Linked DNA regions of Homo sapiens: all the other regions are linked to region 1. The links come from fine-mapping of genetic effects on gene expression. A gene starts in region 1. Each other region holds a variant in brackets. All regions are shown on one strand. Distances are between the middles of the regions. Region 1 holds the start of TOPBP1 (DNA topoisomerase II binding protein 1). Region 2 overlaps TOPBP1 (DNA topoisomerase II binding protein 1). Region 3 overlaps TF (transferrin).

The links.
Region 2: its variant is fine-mapped to the expression of TOPBP1 in whole blood (TOPMed, PIP above 0.99).
Region 3: its variant is fine-mapped to the expression of TOPBP1 in esophagus mucosa (GTEx, PIP above 0.99).

The regions. Positions count from the first base shown.
Region 1 is chr3:133,654,353-133,664,425 of GRCh38, forward strand. TOPBP1 (DNA topoisomerase II binding protein 1) reads right to left here and starts at 7,589. Exons shown (of 28, transcript NM_007027.4): 1 at 7,417-7,589; 2 at 6,692-6,782; 3 at 4,664-4,798; 4 at 3,446-3,589; 5 at 2,324-2,505; 6 at 938-1,134. The coding sequence starts at 6,775. It overlaps LOC124909487, which reads left to right and starts at 6,874. Exons shown (of 3, transcript XM_047449438.1): 1 at 6,874-6,994; 2 at 7,161-7,681; 3 at 8,547-8,986. The coding sequence starts at 6,874. The coding sequence ends at 8,696. It also overlaps a transcript of TF not described here. RefSeq lists a silencer at 7,376-7,545 and an enhancer at 7,946-8,015.
Region 2 is chr3:133,599,322-133,609,394 of GRCh38, forward strand. It overlaps TOPBP1 (DNA topoisomerase II binding protein 1), which reads right to left. Exons shown (of 28, transcript NM_007027.4): 26 at 9,552-9,641; 27 at 9,214-9,375; 28 at 917-2,072. The coding sequence ends at 1,929. Among named protein-coding and RNA genes, the nearest start is that of CDV3, 31 kb to the left of the region's middle. The variant G/A (reference allele first, on the strand shown) is at 4,877.
Region 3 is chr3:133,752,879-133,762,951 of GRCh38, forward strand. TF (transferrin) reads left to right here. Exons shown (of 17, transcript NM_001063.4): 3 at 717-825; 4 at 1,617-1,793; 5 at 2,485-2,617; 6 at 3,404-3,459; 7 at 3,953-4,131; 8 at 4,891-5,068; 9 at 6,297-6,451. It also overlaps the pseudogene ACSL3P1. Among named protein-coding and RNA genes, the nearest start is that of TF, 12 kb to the left of the region's middle. The variant C/G (reference allele first, on the strand shown) is at 4,699.

The sequences.
Region 1 (10,073 bases):
CTTCAACACAATGTATTTTGAAGCAGTATCACAGAGGAATTGAGGTCAATATGTCACATGAAAGGTTTTTTGGCATTCTTGAGAGAATCAACAATGAACTGTCTTCAGATTCAGAAAAAGAACAGCAGTATCAACTCTACTCACAGTGATCCTATCACAATCAGCCATACTCAAAGTTCTGACTTAAGGACAATTACCATTTAATCGTAATTTCTTCTCAATCTAGATAGCTTAGTAAAACACAGTATACATATAAAGGGCAATAATAAAAACATTAACAAAACTCATCTTTTATCAATTTGTGTATATTTTAAGAGTGCTGATAAAAAATTATCCAGAATAATGTTATGTAACACCAAACTTAATAGCAATTTTAAAGAATTTTTCTTGTTCGTAATGTCTTTTTCATTTTTTACTGCCTCATGTGCCGCAAGGTGTGTCTTCCAGTTAAAACTTTGCAAGATGTTAGAGAAAACATCTTTGCAAGATGTTAGAGAAAACAGTATCAAACTAGATTAATGACATGTCAGAAGTAAAAGCTGTTCTGTAAAGATTTTAAAATATTAAATATTAGTGGCTGGGCACGGTGGCTCATGCCTGTAATCCCAGGACTTTGGGAGGTTGAGGTGGGAAGATCAATTGAGGTCAGTTAGAGACCAGTCTGGCCAACATGGTGAAAGCCCGTCTCTACTAAAAATAAAAAGTTATTCAGGCGTGGTGGCAGGTGCCTGTAATCCCGCTACTCGGGAAGCTGAGTTGGGAGAATCGCTTGATCAAGGGAGGCAGAGGTTGCAGTGAGCTGAGATTGTGCCACTGCCCTCCAGCCTGGGCAATAGAGCAAGACTCTGTCTCAAAATAAATAAATAAATAAATAAAAATAAAATATTAAATACTAGAGAAAATGTTTCATTTGTCCCTTTGTGAAACACAGTTTTACCTTTTGGTTCTTGCACAATGAGGTGTGTACATTCATTCATTTTCAATTGTCCCATGTATTGACCTCCATGCTTAACTGTGAGTTGCTGAACTTCTTTCCTGTCTAAGCCACATAAGCCAGTCACACAGATTATGCAACCAAGAAAAATAGGACACTTGAAATCTTCCATGTTTATATCAGTATATCTAGTTATTTTTCTGTGGGAATCAAATGGTTAAAAAAGAACATATTAAATTTACCAGAAGAATAATGAAAAACAACACAAATATCACTATTGCTTCCCTCATTTTTTAGGATTTATAATCTTTTTTTTACAAAGGAGAACCACCAAAACAGAATTACACTAATTGTTCACCTAGTTCAATAACATGTCTCTAAAACAAAGTAATTGTTTCAGATACAGTCTCTCAAAACCATTTTAAGGGAAAAATATATATTTCCTTAACTCTAGCCCTTGCTGGTCATAGTATATTTTCCAAAATGATAAGTCTGAATCTCTACTTAAAAACCCAAAGGTAATTTGGTTGCCTATTAGATAAATGAACTTTTTAATCTTTCCATTATTCTATACAAGTAAAAGCAATGATTTTTGGCAAAATACCAACAAAAATATCATTATTCTGTTGCCATGCTAGGGAGGTGTGCTGATGAAGTAATCACATTGGGAATGAGAGTTGCTGACATGGAGACATATTTGGGATATGCTGGATGGTGTTGAAAACAAGCCCAGAAAAGTGCCGATATAATTCGTATGCCAATACAATTCTGTGGTGTTTGGTCTTGTGGTTGTTTATCTAGTTGCAGGGGAAACTGAAGTGTGCCCCTTGAAATAGGCTCTAAGCTCCATGAGGGAAGTGACTATCTTGTTTTGCTTACTACATATACCTAATGCCTACCTCAAGTCAGATACGTAAAATGGGCTCAATTAGCATTTATTAAATGATCACATCTCAGCTGATGACTTGCATATGTTTATATTCAACCTTACATATGCCATCTTTTGGAAGGAATGCAACTGCCAAAATGACTAATTTATTATCTATCTTAACATATGGGAATGGTGTTGAAGGATAATGCAACATAAAAGCTACAGAATTGCCAAACTCGTTTTCTCAATTATTTCAGAAATATTTACAGCTGAGAACTTTATCACCAAAGCATTTCCTACTCTGTAGCTAATGCTAAACCCTTGGCCCATTCTATGCCTGTCAACTTATATCTTGGTAATAAGAGCTTGTAGATTCTGCTCTTCCGTTTTCGCTGGAGAAAAGAGTAATGACACTATTTTTTTCCCTGAATAGTAAGTCCAAAGAGTATATCACATGCCAAAAATGATTGAATGCATCATTTTTTCAAATCTAGAAAATATAAAAATGTCTTTCTTACTTCTCTTGTGACTTCTCCCAAAGTGTTTTTATCCAAGAGGGAAGCAAAATAGGTTTCTTCAGGTTTGCAGCAACTAAATATTTTTTGCTACCAACTTCTCCTGCAATAAGGTGAGTTACTGATACATTAAGGTCTCTGTATACTCGTCCGCCCATCATTTGTACATATTTATGAACTTCTTCCTGCAGCCCCAAAAGAGAACACATTAATGCTGAAGCAAACAATATTGCTTCCACTTTTATACACTATCTCATAAATACATTTTGCTGTTGACAGTTTGAATACATAAGTGTTACATAACATTATAAAGTTAAATAATTAACCAAATTATTTTTTGGGAGATAAGTATGAATTATATTTTTAAAATATTATTTTCCTATATTTATCCCTTTCAACTCCATGAATGTATTAAACTATTATACAAAGGATGTATAAATCTTAATCTTTGCTTCTATATAAATATACATGTGTATTTTTAACAACATAAATTATATCTATATAATATATAAATATTTATTTTTAGCCAGGCTTGGTGGTGCATGCCTGTAATTCCAGCTACTCGGGAGGCTGAGGCATGAAGATTACTTGAGCCCAGGAAATCAAGGTTGCAGTGAGTTGTGATTGTGCCACTGCACTCCAGCGTGGGTGACAGTAAGACCCTGTCCCAAATATATATATGTATTTCTATAGCTCTCTCTTAGAATGCTTTTTTTTTTTTTTTTCCAAAACGAAATCTTGCTCTGTCACCCAGGCTGCAGTGCAGTGGCGTGATGTTGGCTCACTGCAACCTCCACCTCCCTGATTCAAACGATTTAGAATCCTTTTTTTTAAAGACTGTCCACCTATAGTGGAAAAATGTAAGTGATTAAAAAATGAGTGTCCTTTTAAATTAAAACAAAAAATTTCAATTAGCCAGTTTTCAACAAAACAAATTCTACTATATTCAATTTACTTAAAAAATGTACATGTATACATATATACACACTGTGGTTGTATACTGAACTTTGTTAAAAGTCACGAACAATAAGCGGAAAGTCTTTTAAGCTATCTTCTATGCAGTGAAAAATTAAGAATAAGAGATAGATATATAAATTGATCAATCATCATGAGATCAATATCTACCCTTTTTTCTTTTTCCAGACTTGTACAAGATATGGTTACATCAGACATAACCATATTATAAACTGGATGTTCGGCTCTTGGGACACATCGCTGGTGGTGCATACAAAATATGACTACTTGAGGACCAACAATTCTGCAGCCAAGCTACAAAAAAGAGAAAAGTTTAAATGAGTTAAGAAGGAAAAGACCACCAGTCTTACAAAATTACATTTTGTAACATTCACCAATTCTTTACCAAAGTTGATGACCACTGTAGAGAAATCAGCAAATCATTACAAGAAAAAAATAAAGATGACTATATAATTTCTCAGAGATACTATACATTAAACACTCACACACAAAAGCAAATCAAACAATGCAAGCTATCAAAAGAAATAAACTTCAGGCCAGGCACAGTGGCTCACGCCTGTAATGCCAGCACTTCAGAGGAGGCCGAGCGGGGGTGGATCACCTGAGGTCAGGAGTTCGAGACCAGCCTGGCCAACATGGTGAAACCCCGTCTCTACTAAAAATACAAAAATTAGTCGGGTGCAGTGGCGGGCACCTGCAGTCCCAGTCTCTAGGGAGGCTGAGGCAAGAGAATTGCTTGAACCCAGGAGGCGGAGGTTGCAGTGAGCTGAGATCACGTCACTGCACTCCAGCCTGGGCGACAGAGTGAGACCCTATAACAAAAGAAAAAAAAAAAGAAAAGAAAAGAAATAAACTTCAAAAGCCCCTTTCACTGAAAACTGCCTTACTGCTTACATCTATAAGCCCAATATTTTGGGAGGCTGAGGTGGGAGGATCACTTGAGTGCAGGAGTTCAAGACCAGCCCAGCCTGGCCAACATCGAGAAACCCTTTCTCTACTAAAAATAAAAAAATCAGCCGGGTGTGTATATACATCTGTAATCCCAGCTACTCAGGAGGCTAAGGCACAAGAATCACTTGAACCAAGGAAGCAGAAGTTGCAGTGGGCTGAGCTTGTGCCACTGCACTAAAGCCTGGGCAACAGAACAAGACTCTGTCTCCAAAAAACAAAAACAAAAACAAACAAACAAACAAAAAAAGCCTACTGTAACATAATTAGCCTTTCAATCCTGGTCTTGCCAAACCAAAAGAATTCCAATGTACTCATAAGTTGCATAGTACTTTATAATCCGCAAAGAATGTATGTCCATTAAAGCAAAGATAAACCAAAAAATAGACTACCAAAGGTACACACTAGAAGTCAGCAAACCTTTTTGAGGTGATCAAAGACAACGCCACTAAAAGGGTCACAGATATAAAGTGATCTATCATTCTCCTTTATCTTCAATGCCTCTTCTTCTGTAATAATCTGAAGATATTCTTCTGATTGGAATTCTTTTATGGACTGAAAGAAAAAATAAAATAAGAATGTACCTGAAATTACTCTCCTGTATTTAGGTCCTATTCAAATTCCATCTCAAATCCAGCCTTTTCCCTATTGAAAGCCACCATCACATCTCACTTAGACCTCTGCAGAAGGCTCCCAAGTGGTCTCTTTTTCCCTTCCTTGCCCTAAATCTGTTCTCTACACAGCAGCTAATAATCTTTTCAAAAACACAAGTCAGATCATGTCACTATCTGCTCAAAACCTAATGTCTTCACACCACACCCAGAATAAAATCCACATTTCTTACTACAGCCTTCAAGACAACACAGTCTGGTTTCCTGCCTATCTTTCCACCTTTACCTCCTACTTCTCATCTCTCTTGCTTATTCTATTCCAGCCACTCCCGCTTTCTTGCCAACCCTGGAACAAGCCAACCATAACCTCATTTAGAGGCTCTGCTCTTGATCTTGCAGCACAGAATACTTTTTTTCCAGGTTTTCACCTGACTTAATCCCCCACTTCAATCAGGTCTGCTTAAATGTCACCTCCCCAGAGATGCCCATCCTAATCAGGCTTTCTCAAATACCCTTCCTCTACCCTTCTAGTCTATTCTATTTAAAAATACGTATTTATATATATATATATAGTTTTTGTCTCTCTCCCCTGGAAGTTTCTATGTATCTTGTTTGCTACTATATCCTGACACCCAGTAAGCACTCAGAAATGTTCTGAACCAATTTTGAGGTCCTTATGTTAAATACAGTAATCCCTTTAAAACTGTAAGTCAGATCATGTTTACTCTTCTGATTATCAACCCTCCAATGGCTCTCCACTGAGAGAAAAATGGCCCACAAGGCCCTACATGACCTCTTTACCATTATTCTCTAACGCATTCCTTAGTACTCTTCCCCCATCCCTCACTCACTACACAACAGTACACTAAACTTGGATAGAGACTACAGGCACTTTCCCAGGGGCTGTATAAGGTTGCTCTCTCTGCCTGCAACATTCTTCTCCAGATATCTGCAAGGCTATCTCACCTCCTTCACGTTTACTCAATATCTTTTTCTTCATAAAGCCTACCCTGATCACACCCTATTTAAGATTATAACCCCCTTCTCTTCCCACCCCAAGAAACATCCTCTGGAACCCCTTAACGTGTTTTGCTTTTTTCTCTTCCTAATTTATCATGTCTGATTAGTGTCTATGTCCTCCTGCTAGAATGTAAGCTCTGAAAGAACAGAAATCTTTGCCTGTTCTCATCACTGATAAATCCCAAGTACTAGAGAAGTGCCTATCAAATCATGAACACTTCAATAAATACTTGCTGAATGAATGAAGTTTAAAAAAATCTGCTACAAATGCTTCTCAAACTTTAATGCACACTGAAGATCTTGTTAGAAATGCAGATTCTAAGTCTGGGTTGGAGGCCAAGATTCTGCATTTCGAAGAAACTTCCAGGCCATGCTGATACTGCTGGGTTCTGTGAGAAGCAAGGATCTACATCACCCCTACTATCATCCAATTATTATACTGTACATAATAAAACATAATTTTTAACAATTAACCAAAAAATTTTCAAGTATGACCAGTACACAACTGACTCAAATTTCTACAGCACGCAAAGGACCACTCTGGCTAGGAGACAAATGAAAGCAACTTAATTTCCAAGAACTGTAGGTCAGCCATATTAAACAGCAATGTGATAATAGACTTCCAGCCCCCCGAAATACATAATGATGTACTTAGATCAATTCAAAAATATGTGATAATGATATATCTGTATTAATGTAGACTATAAAATTATTATGAAAGTGAAATATCTACTTCTAAGACATAAAGCCCAACAAATCAAAAACACTTAAAAACAAGAAAATGAATTCACGGTATTAAGATGTTTTCAACTCTTACCTCGAGAGCTTTAAAAAAACATTTGGAATTGTCTGAAGACTTTAAAAACTTCACAAAAAACGGTTCTTTGTCATTTCTGGACATTTCTGAACTGTCAAAATAAAGGAACCATTAACAAGAACAAAACCACATTAGATAAAAAGTTGCATGTTTAACCTACCTATTTTTCTGTGCAGACAAGAATGCCTAAAGACAGACATTCTGGCTCTGCCCGTGAATTCGTCAACGGCATTTCTAAGAAATCCTGGAACTTGGACAAAGCCAAGGTAAAAGATGACAACACCAATCCTTGCAAATCAGACAGCAAAATTAACCCGAATTGAATACACTGAGGAAGGCCCTGCTATGAAGGCTCTAAGCCCTTTAGGCCAATGGACATTCAATTGCACTTGTTTTAAGGATACACAGAGTGTATCTGTCCCTGCGGATACCCACGGCCTGCGAGGTACGTTCATCCCTCAGTAAACAGATTTTAAATATAAACATGGAAGCCAGTTAGCATGGTCTTGGCCCTGCATAAGGCTAGATGCTCCGGTTCCCATCTCCAGGAAAAGGCCTGGCTCTGGGATCACGGAAGCCACGTCCTCTCGGCGTCAAAGGCCCACCCGCCGGCTCCAGGGCCAGTTACCAGGACAGGAAAAGAGGGTCCTGAAGGCCACAGAAGGCATCGCGAACCCCAGTTGGGGCTGGGGAGGAGCTGTGTCCCCACTCCGCGCCTCACTTACCTCGTTGGAGCCTCGGGGTCTCCGGGCGGCGAGTCGGGGGACGCGCTGGCCGCAGGGCGGTGGCTGGGGTCGGGCGCCAGCCCGGCGCACAGCCCCCTCCCCCGACTCGGCGCCGCCCCTACCCCAAAGCAAACGCTGGAGAACCCGGAAATTGCCCAGAACGGGAACCGACTTTCGCGCCAACCGCGCGGCCGCGCTTGCCTTTTCCGGTGGAAGTGACGCCATCGGCAGCTGCAGCAGAAGAGCGGAAATGTCAAACGTGGAGGTGAGCAGTCTGTGGGCGGTGGGGCTTCAGGGAAAGCTTGGGCCGGACCCTTTGGGTTTAGGGCTTTGCTGGGCGGGCCTAGTCTCCGCTGCGAGTAGGCCCAGCGCCGTCGGTTCAAGAGGTAGGACCACAGGCCAGGAATACTCCTTTACTGTTAAAAAAGCCAGGGAAAGAAAGGATTTCCTCAATAGATATTTATTTTACACCTGTCTTATACCAGGCATGCACGGGAAAAGGTATTATCCAAAACAATTCCGTGAGGCAAATAGTGGTAGTTCCATTTTGTAGATGTAAAAACGGAGGAAGTTAAATGATGGGTTCAAGGGCACACGGCTAGTAGGTGGTAGAATTAATACTGCATCCAGGTCTTCTGACTACGGACTGGGTGGTTTCCCTCCAACACAGCAGGAATAGAATCACCGCCTAACACAGCCACAAGATGGCAAGGGAAGAAAGGATGACTTATTACACAGCTAATGCAAAGGGATCTTTGTCAAGATCTTCAATGGTCTCCCCTCCTCCTCCCCTTCAGTGGACATCGCCGTTCTCTTTCTCTGCATCTGCCTCAGTACTGGGGAGATTCTGGGACTGAACCTAAGATTCAGATGGCAGAGAGCAAAGGGAGAGGGGATAAGATGGGCCTGCAAACCTTAGTGATAACCAGCGGAAAACTGATTCGTTGTTGCTTCTTTTCATTTTATTCTTTTTTAAAAAAATTTTTTCTTATTTTATAAAATCTAGCCACTATACTAATGAGGATCATTTTATTATTCACTGCTGAGATTGAGAAAATGACTTTGGATTTACTAATGTAAAAGTATAATGCCATGTCCCTTGATTGTTTTTGTTTTTCTTTTCTTTTTAGAGCCTAAAGATAGTAATGAGCAGCTTGAGTCTTAAGTTTTTGAATACACCGATGGAAGGTGACAAAGATTCTTTGCTTGGCCAAACTTTAGTCAGACTCCTCAACCTTCTCGTAGGTTTATCTGTGCATTTCCTTGGAAAATCCAGTTAGAACCCTCTACCCTCAATATCTGATCAGGTTCCTCATCCTCTACCATCCAAGGTGATGTCTGATCACCTTGACCTATTTTCAGCAAGAAACCCCTTTACTCCTGAAGTTCCTTCTTAGTAATTTTTTATCCAGTGACCCCAAGCTTTTTGTTCCTTGGCTATAAATTCCCACTTGCCCATGGTGTATTTAGAGTTGAGCCCACTCTCTCTCTCCTAATTCAGAATCCCATTGCCATGGTTGCTATACCTATCCTGATGGTCCGGAATAAAATCTGTCTTACTGTGCTTTAATAAATATCATTAATTTTTTTTTTTTTTTTTTTTTACCAGAAATGAGTCAGAATCAATTAACACTGGGGCTCAAAGGTAAAGGCCTATTGCTGGGGGAAGGGTGAAGAAAGCCTTAAAAGCAAAAAAACAAAAATCACTAGAGGTGGGAAAAAAAAGAAACCACAGTTAATTGTTAAGGTGCAAATCTGACCTGAATCTGTAATAACAATTAATATTTCTAGGGCACTTTACAGTTAACATGGGACTCCTGCTCACACTATTCCCGTTTACTCTTTTCAGCAACCCTATAATAGATGGGTATCATTGTCTCATGTTATGGAGATGGGGAAAGTGAAGTTCAGGGACTGTGTCACTTGCCCGTGCCTTTCCTGACACACCACACTGCTCCTGGGCACGTGCTGTCTGCCCATCTCTGTGTGAAGTTCCACACCGGGGAGGGAGCCCATTCCTGGCATTTCTGGGCCAAGTAGAGACCTCACAAGAGAAGGAGATTCATAGATGCTGCTAATGAAGATGAAGAAAATGCACCCTTTAGCTTTTACCCAGCCGGAACTTGATACCAGAGGAGTGACCTGTCTTTAGAGTAAGAGTTCACCACTAGGGGGCAAGTTCTCCCATCTTGTGTCTCCAGATAAGCAGAGAGGGTCTGTCTCTAGTATCTACTCCTGGAAAATGGATAAAGCAGTGGTTCTGATGTGTAGTGTCTGGACCAGCAGCATCGGCATCTCCTGGGAATTTTGGGGGAATGAAAATTCTTGGGCTCCACTTCAGACTTATTAAGTCAGGAGCACTTGGGGTAGGGCTAGCAATCTGTGCCCTTCAGGTGATTTTGGTACACATTAAAGTTTGCTTGAACAGCAGTCCTTCAGGAAAGGGTGAAATGGTTAGTATCCACGGAGGATTGATTCCAAGGCCCCCTACAGATAACAAAATCTGAAGATGCTCAAGTACCTTATATATAACCTGTGCACATACTCCCATGTACTTTTTTTTTCTTTTTTTTGAGACGGAGTCTCACTGTTGTCCAGGTTGGAGTGCAGTTGGCACAATGTCTGCTCACTGCAACCTCCACCCCCGGGGTTCAAGC
Region 2 (10,073 bases), 55 kb before region 1:
CCCAAAGTGCTGGGATTACAAGTGTGAGCCACTGTGCCTGGCCTATTTCAAAGGATTCTGAGTAATAAAATTCAGGGAAACGTACTACAATCTACAAAATGATTCAGCTAAAATAAAATAGCTCTGATAAAGACAGGCCCATGTGGTTTTTGTTTGGTGGGAGGGGGACAGTTTACATCATAATGCTACCTATTTCTCTGTGTAGAATTTGTATTGTCCTAAGCTGTGAACTAGCTCAAAGCTGAAAACCCTGTAGGACCAATCCTCTAGCAGCAGGGATACCCTCAACTCCATTTTGAAGAAAATCTGATGAAAATTTAAGGGATTTTGTGTCCAAGTTGAGCACTCTCTCCTTCACTGTTTGAATCTGCCTTTCAAAAAGTCATTTGGAATTGAACGGTTTACATCAAAATTACATTCCTAACGGATTCTAGTTTGTCCTTAAAATGAAATTAGGTGTATTTATAGAGAATTCTGGTAACGCATGTAGTATTAGGTGTTTAGGTTTAGCATAATAAAGGCTAATGCAATACAGAGTTCCAATAACAGTATGTTTTAATCTAATAGGGCAATATTCTAAATAACAAATATCAGAAATGTTAAGCAATTCATTTATTTTTTTTGAGACAGGGTCTCATTCTGTCACCCAGGCTGGAGTTGCAGTGGCATGATTTCAGCTCACTGCAACCTCTGCCTCCTGAGTTCAAGTAATTCTCATGCCTCAGCCTCCCAAGTAGCTGGGACTACAAGCATCAAACAGCATGCCCGGCTAATTTTTTGCTATTTTTTGCAGAGATGGGGTTTCGCCATGTTGTCCAGGCTGGTCTTGAACTTCTGGGTTCAAGCAGTCCACCCACCTTGGCCTCCCAAAGTGGTGGGATTACAAGCATGAGCCACCGTGCCTGGCCTGCAATTCTTTTTTTTTTTTTTTTTGAGATGGAGTTTCGCTCTTGTTGCCCAGGCTGGAGTGCAATGGCGCGATCTCAGCTCACCGCAACCTCCGCCTCCCGGGTTCAAGCGATTCTCCTGCCTCAGCCTCCTGAGTAGCTGGGATTACAGGCATGTGCCACCACACTGGGCTAATTTTTTGTATTTTTAGTACAGATGAGGTTTCTCCATGTTGGTCAGGCTGGTCTCAAACTCCCGACCTCAGACGATCCGCCTGCCTCAGCCTCCCAAAGTGCTGGGATTACAGGCACGAGCCACCGCACCCAGGCCCCTGCAATTCATTTTTTACGTTACATAAATGTTTTGTTGCTTCAACAGAAGAACAGATGCCAGGGTGCTCTTTTAAAAAATTTATCTATGTAAACACATCTTAATACTAATTTGAGTTACTACTTTTATTCTTTATTGTCACATTTTCCAAGTTTTGCGCATTCAAACTTGGCAAACATCATGGAGATTTGTACAAACATACATATACATATATACACACATATTTATAGCCCCAGCTTCCTCATTAAACCTTGTGCTCAGGCTCCTGTTAAAAGAGGTAAAATGGTGAGAAGATAAAAATCAGGGAAAACATGAATAAATGCTGACTGACAAATCTTGTTGTTATGAATTTGTAAGGCAGACATTTTAAAGCAAAATCCATTACCTTGCTAAAATTTCCACTAAGCTACAGCTTCAGATATTTACAAGAAAAATAAATATCTTTTAACAGACTTCAATGTGGTTTAACAGCAAGCTAGCTGAGGAGTTGTATTTTGTTGTTATTTCAGGTAACTTTTTATTAAGAAACAGTTAATATTTCAGTGATTACAATTTCAGGTGTTCAAAACTCAAGAAGGGTCATCATTATACTCTGAAGCAGAATTCTTCAGGTACTCATCTTTAAATTACTACCCAAATCTATCACAGTCACATTCAGGCTTTCAATTTTTAAAAACATTTAATGTTTGGTAACTAAAGGGTAGATGCGATTAGTGTACTCTAGGTCGTTTGATTTTATTTTTTTCTGTAGGAGCTTTCCTCTTTTGTGATAATCCAGTCCCAAGTTCCTTATTATTCTGAATAAATGAAATAGCTTCTGGTAGACAGTAATTTTCTACATGAGGAGGTGATTCCTATAAAAGGAAAAATAAGTGATTTTTTAAAATGATTTCAAACATTTACGTGATCTGGTAATAGATTTTTTCTTTAAATCTCAGACCTCTCAGGGATGAATCTGACAAACTTAAAGGAAAACGCATATTCATTCCTAGGTTCCAGCAAATTAAACAAAATGGACCCTGTGGGACAAAGTCTCACCTTTTATCAAAGAAATACGTGTATGGTTCAGGTAGAGTGGGACTAGCTCAGATCTTACAAACATTTCATATCGGTGTTTTTAATCCCCATTTTTGAGATAAAATAAAAAAGGTTAAATGAAAACAACCAATGTCACATAACTAGCAGGTAGCAAAGCCAAATTTCATAACTGATCTGACTCCAAAACCCTTGCATTTTCCCCCCACAACCATTTCCCAACATAGAAATGGATCTTTTCCTCCTTATTATAAGTGTAATAAAACTTAATTTTCTAGCAATATGGCAGACTGGGCAACCTGAAAATGAATCACCACAAAATACCAAGTAAGTGCCTTTTGATTCAATTCTTCCATGGATAACAGCTACAAATTCTGACCAAAATATATTAAAAGCAACCATAGAGCCTGGAGAATAAACGAACCAAGCAAATGGGGGGCTGGGGACGCAAACACAGTGTATGAAGTAAACTGCCTGTTAAACAACACAGTACTCTTTGGAGGAGCAAAGGAACAATAGAACCTAGAGTTTCTTTTTTAGGGGGAGATAAGGGTCTTGCTGTGTTGCCCAGGCTGGTGGCTGGTCTCAAAAATGACACATTGAATACAAGGGAACAATTCAAATGACCATCACTGATTTCTCAACAGAAACAATGGAGGCCAGCAGACAGTGAAGTCTTTAATAGAAGAAAAAAACCTGTCAATCTATAATTCTGTATCCTGCAAAACTGTCCTTCAACAATGAAGGTAGAATAGACATTTCATACAACAGAAAGCTAGAATTGATCCCCAATCAACCTGCACTCCAAACTAAAGTTAGTTCTTCAGGCTGAAGGAAAATGTTATCAGATGGAAACTCAGATCTTCAGGGAAAACTGACACTCAAACTGGTATACATGAGGGTAATTATAAAATACCATTTTTTATTTTAGTTTCCTCAAAATGCACAGAATTGTTAAAAGCAAAACCTATTTAAAGTAAAATCTTATTTGGGGCTATAAGATGTAGATGTAAAATATATGACAACTACTGCATAAAGCAGAGGTCAGCACACTTTCTGTAAAGGCTCAGACAGAAACATTTTAGATTTTGTGGGATAGATGATTTGTGCTGAAACTACTTAACTCTGCCATTATAGTGCAAAAGCAGCCATAGAAAATACATAAATGAATGAGTATGGCTGTTTTCCAACAAACCTTTATTTATAAAATAGGCAGTGGGCCAGGTTTGGCCAGGTGGCTATAGTTTACTGACCCCTGGTATAAAGGACAGGGGAAGCAAATGAACCAACTTGGATGCAAGAGATCTACCTTTTTTCATTTTTTTTTTTTTTTTTTTTGAGACAGAGTTTCGCTCTTGTCACCTAGGCTGGAGTGCAGAGGCACGATCTTGGCTCACTGCAGCCTCCGCCTCACAGGTTCAAGTGATTCTCCTGCCTCAGCCTCCCAAGCAGCTGGGATTACAGGTGTGCGCCACGACACCCAGCTAATTTTTGTATTTTTAGTAGAGACACGGTTTCACCATATTGGCCAGGCTGGTCTCGAAATCCTGACCTCAGGTGATCTGCCCACCTTGGCCTCCCAAAGTGCTGGGATTACAGGCGTGAGCCACCATGCCCGGCCTCAGGAAGTAATTTGTAATCTACATATAAACACTTCTCCCTCCAAAAGGTAAATATATTTTTGCTTTAGAAGGCCAATGGATAAAATAAAATTCTAAAAATATTAAACTAATACAAAAAAAGCCAAGAAAGACAAAGAAGAACAAGGACAAAGAACAAATAGAAAACAAACAGCAAAAAACCCCATCCCTAAATCCAATCATATCAATAATTACATGATGGACTAAACACTCCAAAGAAAAAAAAAGCAAGGCCCAACTATATCCTATCTACAAGAAAGCCATTTTAAATATATGACACAGACAAGTTTAAAATTAAAAACCATGCAAAGAGATATCATGACACAGAGTAAACAGGAAAAGGCTATATTAACCTCAGATAATGTACATTCAAGGCGGAGTAAGCCCAGAGATACGTGTTATAACAAAGGATCAATATGTGAAAATCAAAGAAATTATATATGGGTAAACAACTAGCAACAAAGTTTGAAATAAATGGGGTAAAAGCTGACAAAATTAAAGAGAAAAAACAGACAATTCCACAAACAGCTGGAGATTTTAGTATCAGTAATTGATATAACTAAACAAACAAAAAAACCCACATACACAGAAAATCTGATCAACATTATCAACCATATTAACCTATTTGATATTTTTAGAACACAACACCCAACAGCTGCAGAATATAAAATCTTTCACATATATGATATGTTCATTAAGATAGATGAAGCTGGGTGATAAAACAAGTCTCAATAACTTTAAAAGAATTAAAATTATAGAGTATTTTCTGTGATTACAATGGAATTCAATGGGCAATCACAAATTAAAAAGATAGAAAAAAAAATCCTCTTATATTTAGGAACTAAACAACAGACTCCTAAATAAGCCAGTTATAAATGAACACAAGTTGACAATATCAGGAATAAACTTATTTATTTATTTATTTATTTATTTATTTTGAAACGGAGTCTTGCTCTGTTGCCCAAGCTGGAGTGCAGTGGCGT[G/A]ATCTCGTCTCACTGCAACCTCTGCCTCCCAGGTTCAAGCGATTCTCCTGCCTCAGCCTCCCGAGTGGCTGGGACTACAGGCACACGCCACCACACCCCGCTAATTTTTTTGTATTTTTAGTAGAGACAGGGTTTCGCTATGTTGGCCAGGCTGGTCTCGAACCCCTGACCTCAAGTGATCTGCCCACCTCAGCCTCCTAAACTGTTGAGATTACAGGCGTGTGCTACCGTGCCCAGCCAGGAATAAACTTATTACACTAAAAGGATAATAAGAATATTATGAAGAACTTTATGCCAACAAATTTGATAAGATGAAATGGATATATTATTTGAAAAACACCAGTTATTAAAAACTGACATAAAATGAAACAGAAAATAGGAAAAGCGCTGTATCTAGTAAAGAAAATTCGTTACAAAAAACCACATATAAAGAAAACTCCAGGCCGGGTGCAGTGGCTCACGCCTGTAATCTCAGCACTTTGGGAGGCCAAGGTGGGCGGATCACCTGAGGTCAGCCTCAGGTCAGCCTGGACAACATGGTTAAAACCCCGTTTCTACTAAAAATACAAAAATTAGCCAGGTGTGTTGGCTCATGCCTGTAATCCCAGCTACTTGGGAGACTGAGGCAGGAGAATCACTTGAACCTAGGAGGTGGAGGTTGCAGTGAGCTGATATTGCCCCACTGCACTCCAGGCTGGGCGACAGAGCAAGACTCCATCTAAAAAATAAAAATACAAAAAAAGAAAACTCCAGTCCAGGTGGCTCATGCCTATAATCCTAGGACTTTGGGAAGCCGTGGGGATCACTTAAGCCCAGCATGGTGAAACCCCGTCTCTACCAAAAATACAAAAATTAGCTAAGACTGGTGGCGTGCGCTTGTAGTCCCAGCTACCCAGGAGGCTGAGGTGGAAGGATCATTTGAGCACAGGAAGTGGAGATTGCAGTGAGCTGAGATCAAGCCATTGCACTCCAGTGTGGGCAACAGAGCCAGACCGTGTCTCAAAAAAAAAAAAAAGAAAACTCCAGACCTTCAAACATTCAAGGAAGAAAGAGGCATCTTACACAAACTCTTCGAGAAAATCAAGGGAGAACTTCCCAACTTGTTTGTGATGCCAGCAAAACGCTAATACCAAAAGATGACAAAAACATTACAAAACAATGAGAATTACATACCAATATCCCACCCTGAAAACAATTTTAAAAATTTTTACTCAACTAAATCTAGCAATATATACAAAGATTAATATGGCGTGATCAAGTGGGACTGATACATGAAACTTAACATTTGAAAATGTAATTCCCCATAGTAATAGAAGGAAAGAGAAAAACCTTATAACAACTCCAACAGAAGTAGAAAAAGACATTTTATAAAAGTTAACCCCAATTAATGATGAAAAAGAAATCTTAGTAAACTAGGAATAAAAGGACTCTTCCTCAATCTGGAAAAAAAAATCTATGAAGACCCTATAGCTGGTGAAATATTGAACACTTTCCACCTAGGCTAGGGAATAAAGACAAGGAGGCCCAATCTCACCACTTCTATTCAGCAGCATACTTGAGGTCCTAGCCACATAAGACAACAAGAAATAAAAGGCATAAAGAAGGGAAAATCTACAAATCTCTTTGCAGATAAAATGATTGCTTATGTAGGAAAGCCTAAGGTACTAATTGTACTAAGTGAATTTTATTAAGATCATAGGGTATAAAAGACTGACAGGCAAGGCACAGTGGCTCACACCTGTAATCCCAGTACTTTGGGAGGCCGAGGCAGGTGGATTGCTTGAGACCAGCCTGGGCAACCTGGTGAAACCCTATCTCTACCCCTTCCCCTTGCCAAAAAAAAAATTAGCTGGGCATGGTGGCACATGGCTGTAGTCCTAGCTACTTGGGAGGCTGAGGTGGATCTCCTGGGCCTGGGAGGCAGAGGTTGCAGTAAGCCAAGATCACGCCACTGCACTCCAGCCTGGGCAACAGAGTGAGACCTTGCCTCAAAATAAATAAATAATAATATACAAAATTTATATTCTTTTGGATTGGCAGCAAATTGTAGAAAAAAATCTAAATGTAAATCTAGAAATTTTTATTTACAATAGCATCACAAAATAGGAATAAATTTAACAAAAGATAGGTAAGTTCCCTTACTGAAAAACCACAAAATGTTGCTGAGAGAAATTAAAGAAGACCTAAATAGAGACATTCTAGGTTTATGGAATAGAATGCTCAACACTGTAAAGATGTTTACTGTCCTCAAGTTGGTCTATAGAGTCAGTGCAATCCTAATCTTAACCACTCTAGGCCTTTTTTTTTTTTTTTTTTTTGTAGAAACTAACAAGCTGAGTCTAAAGTCCATATGGAAATGCAAAGGACATGGAACAGCTAAATAACCTTGAAAAAGACAACTAAAATTGTAGTCTTAATACTAGCTTCAAAAGTTGCTGTACAGCTACAGTAATCAAGACACAGTAGGAAAGGTATCAACAAGTAGATAATGAAACAGAATAGAGACTCACAAAAATACGATCATTTGATTTTTTATCAAGATGCCAAAGCTTTTGTGGGAAAGGAAAATCTGTTCAACAAATGGTGCTAGAACACCTAGATATCTATATGGAAAAAAACCAGCCCTAGTCCATACCTCAGAGCATTAAGAAAAATTAATTTGTAATAGGTCATAGAGCTAAACATAAAAGCTAAAACAATAACTTTTTAGAAAAAAATATTAAATACACACACACACACCAACAAACAAACAAACAAACAAAGAGACCATGAAAGAAAAAGTGCTCGATGTCATTAGTCATCAGGGAAATACAAATTACAAACACTCTGTACAAATTACAATGTGCTCCCACTATAAACCTACCGCATGGCTAAAAATCAAATGACTGCCAACACTAAATGTTGGCAAAATATGGAATAACCAGAAGGCTTACACAGATTGAGTATCCCTTATCTGAAGTGCTTAGAATCAGAAGTATTTCAGATTTTGGAATATTTATATTTACTGGTTGAGCAACCGAAACCCAGAAATCAGAAATGTTTACGATTTTGTACCATTTCTAACTTTTGGATTTGGGATGCTCAATCTGTATATTATTGGTGGAAAGTGTAAAATGGTAAAAATCCCTGTATATTTTTAGTAGCTTTACTAATGATAACCAAGATGACAAACAGCTACTAAAAATATACAGGCTTTTTTATGGACATATTTTTTCATTTTTCCTGGGTAAATAGGACAGAATTGCTGTGTAATAGAATAAGTAAATATTTCGTTTTTTAAGAAGCTGCCAGGCCTTTTGTCAAAGGGATTTTTACCATTTTACACTTCCCACCAATAATGTACAGATTGAGCATCTCAAATCCAAAAGTTAGAAATGGTACAAAATCCTAAACTTTCGAGCACTTATGTGATGCTCAAGGGAAGTGCTTATTGGAACATTTCTGATTCCAGGAGTCCAAGGGTCCATCAATAGGAAAATGAATCAACTATGGTATATTCAGACAAAGAAATACTACTCAGCAATAAAAAGGAATGAACTACTGGTATACACTACAACTTGAATGAATGTCAAAAACATCACGTTGAGTGAAAACCTTAGATAAAATCGTGGATACTAATCAGTATGCCCTCTGCTCTATAACGGCTTCACATTTGTGTTTTAGGCATTCTATTAAATCCTGAGCAATCTCCAAGCACAGCAGCAAAATCACAAAGCTGACTTTGAGTGTTGGCCTCCCCTTATTTCTGTATCATCCCAGTTGAAATCCTTCATAGATTATGATTATGAAATCTAATCCTTATGATTATGTGTCATGCCTGCTGACTCCTGATGGCCTTTTGGGCACTCTGGTGTCAGAAGATTTTTCTTACCCCATTCAAATTACACAACACAGGCCAATTCTGAATATGAGAGTAGTAAGCCCACCATATAGCAAATGCTTAAATTTACCACAGTGTCTAACATAGGTATTTAATGTACATGAAAGCAAACAGTCAAGAAAACTAAAGGACCTTTGGATAAATGTTTCTCCTTGGACTCCTGGAATCGATTTCTGCTTTATATTCCAACATTTTAAAGGGTATTTTTAAAGCCTTTAGAGGTACCTAGATTTTTATACTCTTCTCATATTTAACTTCCAAGCTAAATGTTTACATAATATGTTCATTATAATAAAAAACACAAATAGAATAAAACTGAAAGGGCTGGAATAGAAGAGAATAACAGGAGACTAATCTTCTACTAATCATGAGCTGAAGGTTTTGTTGTGCAGTTACTTATCTATGCACATAAACGTATCTCTGGTAATGAGGAGGTCAAGGATAGAATCTCACAAACCTGCATGAGATAATCAGCAATGTATTCTGTTCTCAAGCAGTACACGTTCTGGGCAGCAGCTTCTGCTATATTAACTCCTGAGTCATCTGGTTTCAGTTTATTCAAGTCAGAAAAAAGATGTGTGGCCTCTTTAAATAAAGGTACAGAATGACCAGGTAGCACCTAATGAAAAAACAAGGTAGTATCACAATCTACCAGTATTCCAAAGTAGTTCAGCTGTATAATGTGTACTTAAGGATTACCATTTCAAAAAGTAGAGAAAATGAAGAACTCATCATAGCAATCTTGGTTAGATGATTATTCATGTAAAAAGGTCAGTAAATTAATTTGATACAAACCTTTGCTCCTCCTGACTGAAGAAGGCGTTTGAAGCCTGCTTCTCGAGACTGATCCACATGTAAAATAACCTTCCACCCACTAAATGCTCCCTACAAATAAAAAACAATCAGTGGTGAAATCATTTGGAAAATAACAAAATAATACAGATAATGCATGATTTTATCTGTAGACTTAGTTTTGTCAATAAATCTTATAAACTTTACTTTTGCCACAGTATAATTATCTCTGGCCAGAACACTGAAACGTGAATCCATGGTATCTGGCACATAGTAGGCCATCAAGAAATACGTGAGGAATGAAAAACCATTAATGATTAGGTAACATTAAAACAAAGCAGTGTGATTGATGTTTAGTCTTTTCTAGTATTTTTTTCTTTTGATTAATCAAGGGAAGAGCTTCAAGCAGAGCTCCTTAGGTTAGATGAAGCCTGCGTTTCACTTCTCTTAAAAATGTTTACAAACTGGAAACAAAATATTTAGGAAGGGAATAACAACTAACAAAAGCCAGTGGAATTACTCTAA
Region 3 (10,073 bases), 99 kb after region 1:
ATAATAATCAAGCTTTTGATCATTCAGTACATAGTATCACCAAGAAGCTAAACCCAGAGAAAGTGCCCAATCCCTCAGCAAAAGGGTCATGCAGTTTTATGGACCCAGGACAGGAAGGAAGAGCATTGAGTACTGAGTCAGAGTGAAGACGAATGTTTTCAAGGTTCCCATCTTCCCCCAGAAAAAAAATCTCCACAGAAGCACCTGAGGAAGACCTCAAAGGAAGTCTCAAAATAAAGAGGGCTCTGAGCAAAGGTCATGGGCTAGGAATGAAAACAGGTGTAAGAAGAGCGTGGCCAGCCCAAGAGAGCTGTGTCCTTGACAGCAGAGTCCCCTCCAGAGACTGCATTGCACTGGCTGTGCTCTGAGTCTGGGGTGGCGAGGGCGGCTTTCTCCCACGGAGCCTGCCAGGTTAAGCCTTCGTAATTGCCTACGGTAAAGTCACGTAGGATTTTTGGCCAGGAGCTGGGCACCTCACCGGGGAAAAGAGAAACACAATCCATCACTCCCTCTATGCAGAAGGAATAGGAATGTGGTGGCTAAGTGCCCTTGCGAGGGAGACAGAGTCAACTGAAGCCAGCAGGGCTGTGCGTGGTCTAGTCAAGTTCTGGCCCTGGGTCCGTGGAGTCCTGGTAGCCACTCTCTACTTGTGTGGGTTGAGGTGGGCCTTCCTTGGAAGTCAAGGCTTCATCCAGGACTGGCCTGTTCTCTTTCAGGCAAACGAAGCGGATGCTGTGACACTGGATGCAGGTTTGGTGTATGATGCTTACCTGGCTCCCAATAACCTGAAGCCTGTGGTGGCAGAGTTCTATGGGTCAAAAGAGGGTAAGTTCTCCCTGGGACCCCAGGAAGGAGTTGTCATCCTTATTCTATATGCTGAGTGCTGTGTTTTACAGGCAGGTTTTGGATATCAGATATAATGAACATTCATCTTTGGAGAGTGAGTAGAGAATGAGGGGCCCTGTCAGCTGCCACAGCCACACATCAAGGCCTCTGGGGGCTTTGGGCTGGCTGAGGACTGGTGCTCCTAAAACTGAGCCCTGGGCCAGGGGCATATGCTTATCAGAGAAACACAGCAGGCTGTGTGCAGCTTGACCTGAAGGCTACTGCGGTCTACTGATATGTCTAGGGTCCCTGGAGGCCTCTGGAGCCATAGGTACCACTCACACAGGAGGGGTCACTCTGGAGCACACACTCAGAGGCCAGCAGCCCTGCAAGTCTTCTGAGATCAACCTGACTGTCTCTGGGCCTGTGCCAGGGGACATGAAATACTTTGATGGGCCTCTGTTACCACAGCTCCAGTTTCCTGGTGGCTGAGGTTGGTAGGTGTAGGCAGACACGCTGCAGGGCCAGGGGAGGCAAAGCATTCAGGACACATGTGCGTGTGGCCTTCTTGCCCCTGTTTGCCTGGAGGGGTAATATTATAAATATTCCTTCTATGGTCTTCTCTCTCCCCTGCAACCCTAGGAAGGTTTTCCTGATTCCCCACTCCTTATCGCCCAGTCCAGTAAAAGCATGGCCTCTCCGCTCCCCTCCCTCCTCAAGAGTCCGGTGGTGATGAGCCATGTTTCCCTGCACCAGGCTGAGGGCCTTCCATTCACACTGTGCCTTTGCAGATCCACAGACTTTCTATTATGCTGTTGCTGTGGTGAAGAAGGATAGTGGCTTCCAGATGAACCAGCTTCGAGGCAAGAAGTCCTGCCACACGGGTCTAGGCAGGTCCGCTGGGTGGAACATCCCCATAGGCTTACTTTACTGTGACTTACCTGAGCCACGTAAACCTCTTGAGAAAGGTAAGCTGGCAGGAGTCTGGGTGCCCTCGAGCAGCTGCCTCTGCTCCAGATGCCCACACAGGCTGCACTAGACAGTCACCATCAGCAGACATGTGGGATGAACTCAGGTGGGGGAAAGAGGTTAACAGACTTTAAACTGGCAGGTCTGCTGCACCAGCAGCACTTGGGAGGTGGAGCTGAGCTTTTTTCTGCTCTGAGCTTCCAAAACCCCAGCAGAGGCTGTTCTGATGAGTGAGGAAAGGGCGCAAGGCTCGGCAGAGGGTTTCAGTCTAGGCGATGGTGGTTCTCTTGTCCACTTCTCTGGATTTCTTTCCTGGAGGTTTCTCTGGAGCCCTGCACCTCTCTTAAGCAGTTCTCATGTCTGGGGCATGGATCCCAGAGGGGACCTCTCTCTGAGCTGTTCCAGCCTCTGACAAAGCAGGGAGAAGGTGCTCTGAGAAAGACCCGAGATAGGCCTTGGTTAGTGGGAAGCATAGGCCTGTTTCCTCTGATGGATGGTGGCCAGACAGAGGTCAACTTGTTCCTATTAGAAATCCTTGATCTTGATGAGTTAGCATAAGGGCAAGCTGGGGCTGCATGTGCTGGTTTGGTTTTAGTCCCCTCTGTTCCCTGATGGGCCTGGGTGGGGTGATGCCATTGGCTGTGGCCAGCCTCACTCATGCTCTGTTGTCCATTTCTCTGTGCTGAGCAGCAGTGGCCAATTTCTTCTCGGGCAGCTGTGCCCCTTGTGCGGATGGGACGGACTTCCCCCAGCTGTGTCAACTGTGTCCAGGGTGTGGCTGCTCCACCCTTAACCAATACTTCGGCTACTCGGGAGCCTTCAAGTGAGTGAGATGTCTGCTGCTCCATGGTGGCCAAAGTGCCAAATGTCCTCAGGGTGAGAGTTCTTTGCTGGTCCAAAGCCGAGCCCTGCCTGCCTACAGGGGCATCGAGGTGGCCTAATCCCCTCCCAGTGAGTCAGAAGCACAACCTGGGACTCCTAGGCCAAGCCAGCCCATGTTCCCTTTCATCTGACCCTGACAAGTAGGTCCTTTTCCTGGGGACCCTTCCTTTCTCCCCAGAGCCCTCAAGCCTGGTCAGTGTCTCCTCTCGGTGGATCGGGCAGAGCCTGAAAGGACAATCATGCCTCTAGTGTCTGGGCCCACTGTCCAGGGACTGGCCCTCTTCCCTCAATCTCAGCAGTGTTACCTGCTCAGCACACTGCCTGTCTCCTGCCCCCATCACCGTCTCTATCTGGGAAGCTGATTTCTTGCTTTCTCTTTTTACCTTGATTATATCCTAAAGTTTTACAACCAGCCAAAGGCACATTTTCACCCTCAGGAGACACTATACCATTATCTTCTATTCCAGAAGTTTAAAAGCTCTTTTCACATGAAAATATCTTCAGTTGCATTTTGCTTCTTTGGGTTATGAGGGCTTTTTATCTCGTGTGAGCTCATTCCCCCATCTCAGCACTACGCTGGAGGTCTGCACACCATGGTGTTGCTTCAGCTACGGGGCTGCACCAGGCTCTATCCTAGTGTGAGTGCTGGACAGTGTGATCAGACTCTCCAGGTGCAGGAGAAGGGCCTGCCCTGCAGGAGCCCTGCTGATGTGTTTCTTTGACCCAGGTGTCTGAAGGATGGTGCTGGGGATGTGGCCTTTGTCAAGCACTCGACTATATTTGGTAAGAATGGGACAAGAATCCACCAGGGCCACTCCAAGTAGTGGGTGTTCTTTTTCTGTGTTCCCTTTTTCATGCTCAGTAATTGGAAATGAGCATACTGTATTTCTCCTTTATCATTGCCTGGGTTTCCACCTGTGCAGAGTTAGGTACCTACGGGGTCCCCATCTGGATTCCTGGGCCTCTTTCCATCATTCAATCTCTCCACACGGTGCCTCTGCCTCTGGGGTAGTGTTGCCATAACCAAAGACTGGGGGTTGGTGCTGCTAAGATCAGGCTCATGGTGGAATGAGGAGCAATCACTGCTACATGGGCATCAGAAGCCTTTACCTGGCTGTGGGCTCTTGAGCGAGTCATTCTCCCGCATGTTCTCTGGCCTTCAGTGCTCACTCCAGACCTCTCAGCTCATACTTTCTATGATCAATTGAATTTCAAGGATGGGCACCACAGCCCATGGCTCTCCTGTGTTAAGCTCACCTGGGCTTTCCCTCCCCAGAGAACTTGGCAAACAAGGCTGACAGGGACCAGTATGAGCTGCTTTGCCTGGACAACACCCGGAAGCCGGTAGATGAATACAAGGACTGCCACTTGGCCCAGGTCCCTTCTCATACCGTCGTGGCCCGAAGTATGGGCGGCAAGGAGGACTTGATCTGGGAGCTTCTCAACCAGGCCCAGGTATCCCCACCTGCCATCCTCCCCTCCAGCTTAGTGCTCCCTGCTTGGATTTGGGGGTTTTCCTCCTGGCCATCTTGTCACTCTGGAAGTCTGTGTGTTCAGGATACAGTGGGAGCCATGCCACATGTCACTAAGTTCTCTAAAAGCTGGGACTCCCCACAGAGCAGCAGGGAGCCTGCTGTGGTGCTACCGTCTGCCGCCCTTGCCTTTCTGGCTGGTGACACCTGAAGAGGCTCTGTATTGCTCTGTTGCATTCCTTTCTACCTAAACTTCAAGGCCCAAAGCTAAACCCCTCCCCAAGGAGGCTTTCCATGACCCTCCCAGAAGGAAATGGTCTCTCTCCCCATGCCCCTCAGCCCGGCTGTGAGGGGGCTGCCTGCACAGCGGCTTTACTTCCCAAGAGCTGTGTGATTTGGGCTCAGCCAGCTTCCTCTTGCCGAGCCGTCCCATCTGTCCACTGAGAGTTTGACTGGTAACCACACAGGGCAGCCTCTGGATTAGCCACGTTTCTTGTTCTCACCGATGTCTCAACCCGTTCCGGGAGACAGGCACAGAAGCAGGTTCAGG[C/G]AAATCGCGGACCCACGAGGGCTACAGGCAGAGGAAGTGCTGGGTGAGCAGGAGCAGGTCCGACTGCCCTCTCTCCTGGCATCTTGAACTTTTTCATGTTGTTTCCTGCAGAGATTTCTTTTCTCTTCAGTCCCATTTCTCAGCCTCCTTTCTTCTGTGTTGCCATCCACTATTCTGTTTTTCTATGAACAGGAACATTTTGGCAAAGACAAATCAAAAGAATTCCAACTATTCAGCTCTCCTCATGGGAAGGACCTGCTGTTTAAGGACTCTGCCCACGGGTTTTTAAAAGTCCCCCCCAGGATGGATGCCAAGATGTACCTGGGCTATGAGTATGTCACTGCCATCCGGAATCTACGGGAAGGCACATGTGAGTACCTGGGAAGAACCAGGTGACCACAAGCACTTGGGAAACCTGGTGAGCACAGGGGCCAGAGATTGAGTCTTTTCAGGGACCTGCACGCCTCTCCTGATGCTCCTTTTTCTGACCTGTCTGTGAGCCCAGTGTTAGACTGATGCTGAATGGCGTTAGTCATTATGAGATGGCCTTGATGTCACCATGGGCTTTACAGGAAATCCACATTTAAAATGACGTGGGTTGGTTCCAGTATTTCCTTTGCATCAATCAGGACTGCCTTACCTACTCTGTGAAGGCAATTAGCTTATCACAGAGTAAGTGAAATAGAACAAAATTGCTATATATTGCACATCTCCAGCCAGTCAACATGTACCATAATGAAGAGGTGCTCTAAGAGAGGTTGATCCCAGTCCTGGATTTCACTGAGTCACTGTGGTTTTGCTTGACCATTCATTTATTCAGCAGACATTTATTGAACATCTAGCCATATGCTCTGCTAGGTGCTGGACATAGGATGGCATGACAAATATATATTTGATTCTGTTGTCCTGGAAATTTCAAACTGGGGAGAAGATAAATGTTTAATGAATAGTCATGCTATTGGATGATGAATTACAAAGTAAGAGATATGTTTAAAAGGGGAAAAATATGACAACAAAATACCATGGCCCTATGAGACTGCAAAACAAAGAAAAATAGGCCCTGGACTTGGCGTTAAGGCAAAGCTTCCTTGAGGAAGTGACTCTTGAGCTCAGTCTGAAAGATGAGCAGATGTACATTTATTCATCAGACATTTATTATGCTGACCATGTGCTAGCATTGCCCTAACCCTGAGGATGCCCTGGTGAACAAGACAGGCAGGGCCCTTTCTGTGTTGGAGCTTCTGTTCTCCTGCAGAAAACCTGACAATAAACAATGAACATATAAATAAGAACACCTCCAGTAGTTAAGTGCTATCTGAAAAACAAGAAGGAAAAAAACAGCCAGAGGTCATATAGTGCCCAGAGGCTGGAGAGGAAAGTTGGCTTCTCGGAAGACATAAAAAACTAAATTTAAATGAGAAGTCAACCAAGAGATTGTGCATTGACTTTGCTTTCTAAGGTGATTAATTCCTTGAATGGGGTCTGTTTGTTTATTGCTGGCAAATCCCAGCATTTGCATGAAGACAGTGAGTAGTGCTGACAAACACCAGGCAACAGCTAGGGCCGCTTCTGATCTTTGTTCTTTTTTTATGCCATAGGCCCAGAAGCCCCAACAGATGAATGCAAGCCTGTGAAGTGGTGTGCGCTGAGCCACCACGAGAGGCTCAAGTGTGATGAGTGGAGTGTTAACAGTGTAGGGAAAATAGAGTGTGTATCAGCAGAGACCACCGAAGACTGCATCGCCAAGATCATGGTATGTCACTCCAGCCTTCCTAGGGCAGCGTCCCTGTCATTGCTGCCTGCTGGCCCCCAAGACTGAGCTAGGGAGTGTTCCTGGGAATGATGCAAAAACCTGGCTCCCAGGAACCTTGCCCTGACTATGTGAGCACAGCCCCACCGGAGGTTCAGAATCTTTGAGCTTGTGGATCTGAAGGGTGCCCACAGGGCTCAGTTTCCTCCTTGTATGAGTGTATGGTGAAAGGGCAGGCTGAGCAGTGCCTGCTTAGGGAGGCTGGACCATGGTGTGGGTGTCCTGAGACCAGTGGTGTGCCACGATCACTGAGATAAGATCCTGAGTACATGGTAGGATCCAATCAGGTACAAATTTGCTTTGTTGATCAAAAGAGTATCCTAGCCTGGCATGGTGGCATGCACCTGTAGTCCCAGCTACTTCGAAAGCTGAGGCAGGAGGATTGCTTGAGCCCAGGAGTTCAGGGCTAGCAACTTAGCAGGACCTTGTCTCTAACAACATTTTTTTTTTAAGAAAGAATATTCCATGTTGGCTTACAGAGAATTTTTAAAATCCTGAATGATATAAAGAAGAAATAAAAAGTACTTATAATCATGTAATTCAGAGAAAATTCCCTTATTGGGATCATTTCATGTAGGTTGCTTGCTACCTTTTACTCACTCACAGTATCTAGTAAGCTTTTCCCATATCATAAATCATTCTTGTAAAACCTAATCTGGAGCTTCTGTGTTAGTGCACACATCGAGATGGGGGAGTATGGTTTGCCTAGAGAGAACATGAAGTGCCAAGCTCCACTCCCCCTCCTCCCCACATTTCTTGCCCTCTGTGTCTCTTCCATTTGGCTATTCTTGAGTTGGATCCTTTATAATAAATCAGCAAATATATTGAAACAAAGATGCATATTATAAAGGTACTTCCTGCCATTGTCAACAGATTTTTGCTGAAATATGTTAATTCTACTTTTTGAGCACTTATGAATAACCATGTATCTTCAGAACTATCTACCATGAAGCAAAAAGGGACCATCAAGCTCATTATTTTATATTTCATACAATTTATAGATATCACTTTATGCTATTTTAACATATATTCCATTTTAATTTTTGTCTGAGTCAAGACAAGAAAAACCAAACTAAGTTAAAGCAAAGCCTACAAATTCAAAACCTGAGTCTATACAAATCTGTTAGCAGTTTGAGTGGCTGGGCTTCAATATTATACTCTGGATGTGATACAATAGATAAAGTTTTTTACGTCTGTAAAAAAAAGGAAGAGCAAAAGACTCTTGGGAACATGTGAAATCTTAAATGAAGATTAAGTACAACCAAATGTAAACATATTTTAAAAGGTTCTTCTTGGACATCATAATTTGCTCTCCTATGAAGATGTCATCGTTTGAGCCTTTAATGTTGGAAATAGCTTACAGATGTTGGGGCAGAAACCAAAGACCAACATTGCCATGTTCTGTGAGACCACGTCCAAGTGGATGATTGCTGGATAGGTATGTTTCATGCATAACATTTAGTTCATAAAATTATATGCTACTTTAGGAGGTCCAGGGCCCATGGATTAATGAAACAAAAGTAACTAATCTCATTGCTAGTAAAGAATTATTGGAAACAAAGTTGAAAGACATAGTTTATTTGGTCCCACACCTGTGACACATCATCACTGTCAATGGGAAGCCACTGACCTGTCCCAATTTCCCAAGGTTGTTATCATGGACATCATGGCTGCAGTAGAAAGTGAAGGTGAGTGTGGAAAACAGATCCCAAAGTGACCAGTGCCCTCGGTTATTGCAGTAATCATGTTCATGAGTAGACACACAGGACTTCCAAAGGGAGTCATCATCTCGCATAGAAACATCATTACTGGTATTACTGGGATGGCAGAAAGGATTCCCAGACTGGAGGAGGAAGATGACTACATTGGATATTTACCTGTGGCCCATGTTCTAGAATTAAGCTTTGAGCTTCTTTGTTTTTCTCATGGATGCCTGCTTGGCTCCTCTTCACCCCAGACTTCAGTGGATCAGTCTTTAAAAGTAAAAAATGGGCTGCCCACTGTGGCATGCAGCTGTAGTACCAGCTACTCAGGAGGCTAAGGTAGGAGGATTGCTTGAGCCCAGGAGTTTGAGTCCAGCCTGGGAAACATAGTGAGACACCATCTCAAAAAAATAAAAAATAAAAAAATAAAAACCAGAAGCAAAGGGTGTACTTCTGGGTTGAGACCAACACTGATGGCAGCTGTTCTGGAAATCATGGATCAGATCTACCAAAATGTCATGAATTAAGTGTATGAAATCAGTAGTCTTCAACACAATCTGTTTATTCTGGCTTATAATTATAAAATGGAACACATTTCAAAAGAGCATAGTACTGGATTGTGTGACAGCTTTGTTTTCTGGAAACTGTGAAGCTAGCTAGGTGGAAATATTCAGCTTTTATTGTATGAAAGTGCTCCACTTTCTGCAACACGCAGCAAGTTCATGAATACAGACTCACTGAACCTACAGGGGCTGGAACAATTACAGATGTGTGGATTACAAGACTGGCAGAAGTGAGAGTCCCATTAGTTTGCTGTGAAATTAAATTAAAGAACTGGGAGGAAGGTGGATACTTTAATACTGAAAAACCACATCCCAGAGGTAGAATTCTTATCGGTGGCTAAAATGTGACAATGGGATGCTACAGAAATGAAGCAGAAACAAAAGCTGATTTATTTGAAGATGGAAATGGACAGAAGTGATTATGTCCTAGAGATGCTGAAGAGTTTGATGGTTGTTTACAGATGATCGATCATAAAAAGGACCTTGTAAAACTACAGGCAGGAGACTATGTTTCCCTTGGGAAAGTAGAGCCAACTCTGAAGAATCTCCCAGTAATAGATGACGTTTGTGCATTTGCAAACAGTTAATTGTTCTTATGTCATTGGATTTGTTGTGCCAAATCAAAAGGAACTAACAGAACTAACTTGAAAGAAAGGACTTACAGGAACTTGAGAGTAGCTCTCTAACAGTTGTGAAACAGAAGATGAGGTGCAGTAGTCCCCCTTTATGTGAGGTTTCGCTTTCTTGGGTTATACCTACAGTCAACCGTGGTCCAAAAATGTTAAGATATTTTGAGAGAGAGAGAGAGCACATTAACATAACTTTTATTATAGTATGTTATAATTGTTTTATTATTGTTGTTGTTAATCTCTTACTGTGCCTAATTTATAAACTTTATCATAGGCTTGTATGTATAGGAAATAAACATTGTATAGGGTTTCAGGTTCCAAGACTGGGGGTCTTGGAACATATCCCTTGAGGATAAGAGGGGACTACCATACGTAAAGTACTTTCTGAAGCTGCTATTTGGGCGTGTCTGAAAAAGTTTGAAAATCTATTAAAAATTGGTTTGAGCCCTGACCCATGAATCCTGAAACTGGTCTGGTGACAGGTGCCTTCAAGCTAAAACACAAAGAATTTAATACACATTACCAGGCAGACTCTGAGCGAATGTGTGGAAGAAATGATTTTTCTCTTTTGGCATCAGTTTGCTACAGTGAGCTCAAATCAAATAGGAAATTATTTGAAATGCATGTTTCAAACTGTGAGGCAAACTCCATTCTTCATATTCAACCTAGA